Linked DNA regions of Homo sapiens. The protein of the gene in region 1 interacts with the protein of each later gene in a biochemical or structural test. Each region holds a gene or a part of one and is shown on either strand. Other genes may lie near its edges.

Region 1 (3,650 bases):
CCCTGAATGGAGTGGAGGCCGGGAAAGATCCGCAGACGAACCCGAGTCACCGGTGGCTGCAGGGCTGTCCCGGGGGCCATTGAGAACGAGTTCCACCCCCACCCACCCCTGCCTGGAGTGCTTCTCTGTAAAGGGAACACCAGTCGTGGCCTGGCCCCATTTTTACAGATAAACCAACTGAGGCACACTGGAGGAGCCCCACCTGTGATTTCGGCCACATTTGGCCCTGGGAGCAGGGAGGCCAGGGGAGCAGTGGGATGTTCTTCATGGGGGCAGCAGGCGGCAGGACTGCACCTCCCGTCCCCTGGGTCTGGCCCACAGCCCCTATCCTAGCCCGGCCAGCTCTCGGCTCTCTCTCCCCTGCGTGGGGCGGGGAAGGACTTTGGAAGCTGTGGGTGATGTTGACGCCGTTGCTATGGTTACGGAGAGTGAGCGAGCCAGCGAGTTGGGGCGGGGGCGGGAGGAGAGGCTGGCTGTCGGCTCCCTGCTCTCCAAACCCCCTGCATCCCCGGAGGGCCCCCCCCCCGCCCCCGGCATGCCAGTGCCCGGCACACCGTCAGCCTGCACCTCCAGAGGGTTTGCCGACACCCTCCCCAGGAGAGGGGCTCAGACCTGGAAGGGTTCTTCTCACCCAGGGCTTCTCTCCTCCGCACTTACCGAGACATTTGGGGCCTGATCGTTTTCTGGGGAGGGGCTGTCCTGGGCACTGCAGGGGGTTATGCAGTGTCCCCAGCCTCTACGCACTCCATGGCAGGAGCACCCCCTCCCCAGTCGTGACAATCACAAATGTCCCCAGACCTTGTCAGGTGCCCCCCAGGGGGCTGCAGGGTCACCCCCAGTTGTATCCCACTCTGAAGTCCCCTGCCGCAGGCCAGCACCCAGCATCCCAGTCCCCGCGCCCCAGGACTTAGGGAACTGTGTCCGTGGTGGCGGGGGGCGGGGTGGGGGGTGGCAACAGGGATGCTAGTGATGACGGAAAGCGCTTCCTGGAGGAGGCAGCCTGAGGCCCACTGGGCTGGGTGGGGCAGGGAATGGGAGAGGAAGGGCGTGCTGGCTCTGGGGTCTGCTGTGGAGGTAGGGACTTGAGGTGGGGAGGGGGCACCTCGGCAAGGTGAATCCCTGCACTTAATCCCGAGGGTGGGGACGCTGGGGGCGGCAGTGAGGCAGGCTGGGCTTTGCAGAGGCAAATCCATTTATGGAGAAGGGATTAGGATCAGAGAGGGGTTGAGGAGGGCAGGACGAGATGTGGGAGGGATCGAGGCGTGCTGGTCTACGCACTGGGTTGGAGGGAGACTCCTCAGGACGAGGTGTGCAGAGGAGTGTCTGAGTGCCTGCCAGGTTTCTGATCCCTTGCTGAAGAGGGCCCCAGGAGGACAGGTGGGTGGGGAAACTGAGGCCCAGAGGGGGAAGCAGCCATGCCCCACTTCATTCTCTCCTCCACCCCCAGGCAGAACTATGCGCTCCTGTAGGGTTGGGATGGCAGTGCTGGTGGGCAGAGCTTGGGAGAACTGGCAGCTTATCTGGGGAGGGTCGGAGTGGGGCAGTGCCAGGCCATAGGGGGTGGGGGGTAGGGGGCCAGGGACTGCCCTCCCCCACCCACCGCCTCTCCAGCCTGCAGAGTGCAGAGAGCAGCTGGAACTGCCTGCAGGTGCCCCAGCTAGTGGGATGGGGAGGGCTCCCCCAGGGTTGTGGGGGGCGATAACCACCCCCACCCAGGCTCTCTGATAAAAGCAGCCCAGATCGGTGGGGAGGAGGCACATGATACCAGCAGGGTGAGCTGTGGGGGCGGGGGGCACCACCCTGGCTTAGACCATTTCTGGAACAGAGGTTACACAGGCACCAGGGTCCTTGAGGGGGTTGTCCCCTGCCGACCCCCAGGTACCCAGAGTCTGGTGCAGGAGGTCCTGGCCTGGGTTGGGCCTCAGGTGGGCCTCCTTTTATGTAGAAGGGAGTAGTGATAGTTTGGCGGCGGGGTGGGGAGGACAGGAGTATTCAAGATGCTGAGCAAACATTATCTGCCCTTGCTCTTGTTGGAACCAGAGCTTGATCCCCTAGGCCTGCATTCTCCTTTTCCACAGATATGCATTAAGCACCTGCTGTATACCAGGCCTGTGCTGGGCATTGCCGGGGACCCAGCCGTCAATGAAGTGCCTGCCTTCTGCTCCCACTGGAGTGCAGGGGTGCAGATATTACACCCACAAGATGCATGCGTTTTTGGAAGCCTGGTACAAAGACAGAGAAGCTGACCAAGGGTGCTTGGGGGGCACCAGGCCACTGTGAGGGGCACTGCTGCTCAGAGAAGCTCCGGGCAGGATCAGCCATCAGTTTTGACCCTAGGCCAGGGCGGAACTCAGGAAAGCCAAGCGCAGTCTGGGTGCCCAGGCGGGAGCTGCTGGACTACTGCACTAGTCCAGGAGTGAGCTGGGAGGGGCAGGGTGGGGCCTGGACGGATCCCGAAGGTGATGGGATTTGGCTGGCAGGTGGCACGTGGGGAGGTACGGGATTGACACAAGGGTGGGTATGCCTGCCTGCGTGTTTGGCGGGAACAGCAGGGGGTTTGGAAAGGGGAAGTCTACTGGAGGAGTGGGGATGGGGGAGGAAGGAAGCTTTGGCTTTGGGAAGTCAGGGGAGCTAGGGGCAGAGTGGGTGTGGGGGTTGCTATGGCCCAGTAGTATTCGAGACCCCACCCCCAGGCTGGCAGGGCCTCACCACCAGTGTTCCCCCTTTTCTGCAGCGGCTCCCAGAAGCAGCTGCCTATAGGTTCTATAGAACCTGCTCAAGGATCACCTTCAGGAGCTCCTCCCTTCCCTGGGTGGGTAAGAGGCCTCCCCAGCCCCAGCCTTTCCTGGCTCTCCTGGGATGCTTGCTTTGCGGCTGGGGCTGGTCTTCCCCACCTGTGCCCTCCCCTACAGACCCGACCCCACCTGTTAGGTGGACGTGAGTGCCCCGGCAGGCAGCCGGCCACAGCCCCCCTCCCCACCCCAAGGCCCCCCAGACAAGCTCAGGAGGTGAGGCTTCCCTGTCGGAACCAGGGCCCTTGGCACAGTCCCGCAGTCCTGTCTCCAGGCCCCTCCTGTGCCGGCTCAGACGGGGCCGGGCCAGGTTTCCAGGACTTCCTGGACTCCATTTTTCTGAGCCTGCCTGTTTCCGAGGCTGTCCTGAGCTCACCCGGGCCCAGCCTGAGTCAGAGGGTCAAGTCCACCGCGGCCCCGCCCACACTGCCCTCCCGCGTTGTCCCCACCCACCGCATCCTCAGGGCGCTGCGTCTCGGCCAGGTAGCGCGGAGCAGCTGGGTGGCTGTGCACCTGGGGGCCCGGCTGGCTAGGAGCAGCGCGCTCTGGGCCCCCACAAGTTCACCCCACCCTCCTCCCTGCGAGTGGATTGTGTGCGAGGCAGGGCCTGGCATTTCGCAGAGGCGCTTCGCCCAGCGCAGCGTGGGTGGGTAGCCCGTGCACCCCCTGCCCCGCCACCCACGTGCGCATGTGCGCGCCTCAGTCTCCAAGCGCGGGGCGGGGCTGGCAGGCACCCAGGCCGGAGAGGCGACCCTGGCCCGGGCCCCCTGGCCCCGGCGGGAGTGGGACCACGTGAGCGGGGCCGGCTGGGGCTGCGGATGTCCCCGCCGCCGCCGCCGAGCTACGTGCGGCAGCTGT
Region 2 (3,650 bases), on another chromosome or scaffold:
ATTTGCAATTCCTCAGAAAGAGCAGAGAAATGCCAAGGAAGCTGGAGGAAACTACACTCCAGCATTGACAGAGCAGGAGGTGTATGCCCAGGTTGCTCGTCTCTTTAAAAACCAGGAAGATTTGTTGTCAGAGTTTGGACAATTCCTACCAGATGCCAACAGCTCCGTGGTATGTTTTTTTAATAAGAATTACACTATTTACTATTATTATCTTAGATGAGTTGGAAAACTGTGCTCAGAAGGGGACTTTTCCTAGATGATATTTGTTTGCTTTGATAAGAGCATTAATCTCATTCATGTGTCTTAATCAGCTTTTAAGCAAAACAACTGCTGAGAAGGTTGATTCTGTGAGAAATGATCATGGAGGCACTGTCAAGAAGCCCCAACTGAACAACAAGCCGCAGAGGCCCAGCCAGAATGGCTGCCAGATCCGCAGACATCCTACAGGAACCACCCCTCCAGTTAAGGTGAGAATGGGCAGCAGCTGCTCATTTTGACACTCACAAGTATTTCTAATGGAGAGGTACTCTAGAGGTGGTCATGTGTTTTGTTGTTGTTGTTTTTTTTTGTTTTTTTGAGACCGAGTCTCGCTCTGTCGCCCAAGCTGGAGTGCAGTGGCACGATCTCGGCTCACTGCAACCTCTGCCTCCCGGGTTCAAGCGATTCTCCTGTCTCGCCCTCCCGAGTAGCTGGGACTACAGGCGCATGCCACCATACCGGGCTGATTTTTTTTTTTTTTTAGTGGAGACGGGGTTTCACCGTGTTAGCCAGGATGGTCTCGATCTCCTGACCTCATGATCTGCCCGCCTCGGCCTCCCAAAGTGCTGGGATTACCTGTGCCCGGCAGTCATGTGTTCTTAAGTGTGTTAACGGTTGGGTCCTAGATATTTGGAGGAAGTTAGTATTGTGTCACAGAAACTCAGTGCAGAGTTTATCTGGCTTTGCAAAAGAGTATTAGAATAACATTGATTGCTTGGATTACTGTACTTTTCTGAGTTCTTTATTATCTCTCCTTTGCAATGAGCTGTCATTTCTTTAATGTTTTGGTTGCTACTAAGAATTTCCAATACTTGAAATTTTTTTCCCTTCTTTTTTTTTTGAGATGGAGTCTTGCTCTGTCGCCCAGGCTGGAGTGCAGTGGTGTGATCTCAGCTCACTACAACCTCTGCCTCCCGGGTTCAAGCAATTATCCTGCCGCAGCCTCCTGAGTAACTGGGACTACAGGCGTGTGCCACCACGCCCAGCTAATTTTTGCATTTTTAGTAGAGATGGGGTTTCGCCATGTTGGCCAGGCTGGTCTTGAACTCCTGACCTCAGGTGATCCACCCACCTCGGCCTCCCAAAGTGCTGGAATTACAGGCGTGAGCCACCGCGCCTGGCCCCTTCTTCTTTGATGCTTTAAATCTGCCTTGTGTTAAGAAAGAACATTCTTGAGCTTGAGAATTATTTCAGAAATAAGTGGTCTCTGAGGTCCTCTTGTGAGTAGAGTGCATGTGTTTTTTGAGATCTCTGGTCTAGAACCCTGTCCTGCTCAAAGTTCTTTGTTGGGTTACCAGATCTTATGTGTATCATCTTAATCTCCAAGGCAGGACCTTTGGGCTGTAGCAGAGGGAAGTCTTAAACTCCTCTTAGTAATCCATTACATGATGTTTTTTGTTATAGTTAACACTGATGGTCTGCCTGCAGAAAACTTAGCTTGCTCCCTTCTTTGATGTAACACAGCTATGATAGGGAGAGGGCTAGTTGTATGTATTGAATGTTTAATTCTTCAGTGAATTTCAAAGCAGTATGTAATATAGAAGAGACAGATATGTCTGCAGAATTAAATAATGACAAAAGTTTGGGAATTTCTAATAGTAAGAGGTGGCTGATGAATAGTGATTGACTGACTACAAGGTCTGACGTACTAGGTGTTACTGACACTTTTGAAGTATCCTTTTCATTAGTGTTTGTCATGGTTTCTTCTTTTGAAATCTTTTGAAATCAAGTTGAACATAATAATGGTTTCTATTTCTTCATTTCAATAAAGAGAATTAGTTATATGGGTAGCAAGAATCAGCTCAGTAGATACACTCCATGCTTGGATTTACGTCCGCCCACTCTTGATTACCTACAGGTGGCAAGAATATAGTGGGGGCTTAAAATTCTCCGCCTACTTTCTCCATAGGCAGTGTAAGCAGAGGCTGCGGCTCTTAAGAAAGTATACTCTGAGATAGCCAAGGTAAATGTGCTACTTCTCACAAAGTTTGTGCATTTCTTCATAGAGAGTAAGTGGTGGATTTTAAAAGTAACTTCTTGCCTGACAGGATTATATCATGGCCTGTTGGTTCCCTTTAGAAGAACAATATTAAATTAGTCTGAGTGGATATTGCTGGCGTGCCTTTTTTTTTTTTTTTTTTTTTTTTTTTTTGAGATGGAGTCTCACTCTGTTGCCCAGGCTGGAGTGCAGTGGCGTGATCTCGGCTCACTGCAGCCTCCACCTCCTGGGTTCAAGCGATTCTTCTGTCTCAGCCTCCTGAGTAGCTGGGACCATAGGCGCACACTACCACGCCCAGCTAATTTTTTTGTATTTTTAGTAGAGACGGGGTTTCACCATGTTGGCCAGGATGGTCTCAATCTCTTGACCTCATGATCTGCCCACCTTGGCCTCCCAAAGTGCTGGGATTACAGGCATGAGTCACCATGCCCAGCAAATTATGCTTTTTAAGTAAATTTTTAATTGAAATATTATTCAGGGTTAAAGATTGATTTCTGTCAATTTGTGAGCTCTTTTTACAAACAGCCTTTTCTCCCTCAGCTGGTAGGAGAACAAAACAGTGGCATTAGATTCTACATGAAGTTACTTTGGGCCCCTAGAAAAAGTAAGGATATTCTAAAAGTTTGTCACAGTAATGTCATGATCATTTCTGGAGAAAATATTTTGGGGGTAGAATGATCTTTGAACCTCTGTTGTAGAAAGAAACTTAATAGGCAAACTGAAATAGAAAATATGAGTTGAAATCTTAGAGGGTATGGAGTGAGTTGGTTAGAGTTCTCTCATTTGTTTCAAATTATTAATCAGCAGTGGTTTCAGTGATGAAACCATTGAATACAGACAAAAATAAAATTCAGAGAAAACCACTCGTTGAATCTCACATGTTTGTATCTTTCTTTTGCAGAAGAAACCCAAACTGCTCAATCTGAAGGATTCTTCTATGGCAGATGCCAGCAAACATGGTGGTGGAACAGAATCGTTATTTTTTGATAAGGTGAGTAATGGATGAGTTAGATTTGATAGTGCCTGTTAATGCCAAAAGAAAATCATCTTATCCCCCTGGAAGGTTTCGTTTTAAAGGTGTCAGGCTAATTAGGACTTTCTGTTTTTTAACATAGTTTCCCAGTTGTGAGTCCTTTGAGTCTGCTAGTACTATTAGCATAGCTAGAAAAATGGTAGCATTGTTTGCTTTGGTTTTATGAAGCAGTTTGGGGCAGAAGACAGATTTTTAGAAAATGTATTATGTTTCTCTTGAAAGATGTTTGGAGCTCCCATTGTAGATATCCAGGTCTGTGTGGCAGGCAGTACCAGTGCCTGTACCAATTTTTGAGGATTTAAGATGACTTGTAATCTTTTTTTTTTTGAGACGGAGTCTCGCTGTCGCCCAGGCTGGAGT

Evidence for each region. The genes of interacting proteins can lie anywhere in the genome.
Region 2: the proteins of KLF16 (region 1) and SIN3A form a complex in vitro, tested with the Homo sapiens proteins (2 studies listed by BioGRID).

Annotation. Positions count from the first base shown.
Region 1 is NC_000019.10:1,856,997-1,860,646, reverse strand, and holds part of KLF16 (Krueppel-like factor 16), read left to right. Parts: intron 1-3,650. UniProt on the Homo sapiens protein: Transcription factor that binds GC and GT boxes and displaces Sp1 and Sp3 from these sequences. Modulates dopaminergic transmission in the brain.
Region 2 is NC_000015.10:75,406,653-75,410,302, reverse strand, and holds part of SIN3A (paired amphipathic helix protein Sin3a), read left to right. Parts: intron 1-16; coding exon 17-169; intron 170-311; coding exon 312-467; intron 468-3,158; coding exon 3,159-3,248; intron 3,249-3,650. UniProt on the Homo sapiens protein: Acts as a transcriptional repressor. Corepressor for REST. Interacts with MXI1 to repress MYC responsive genes and antagonize MYC oncogenic activities. Also interacts with MXD1-MAX heterodimers to repress transcription by tethering SIN3A to DNA.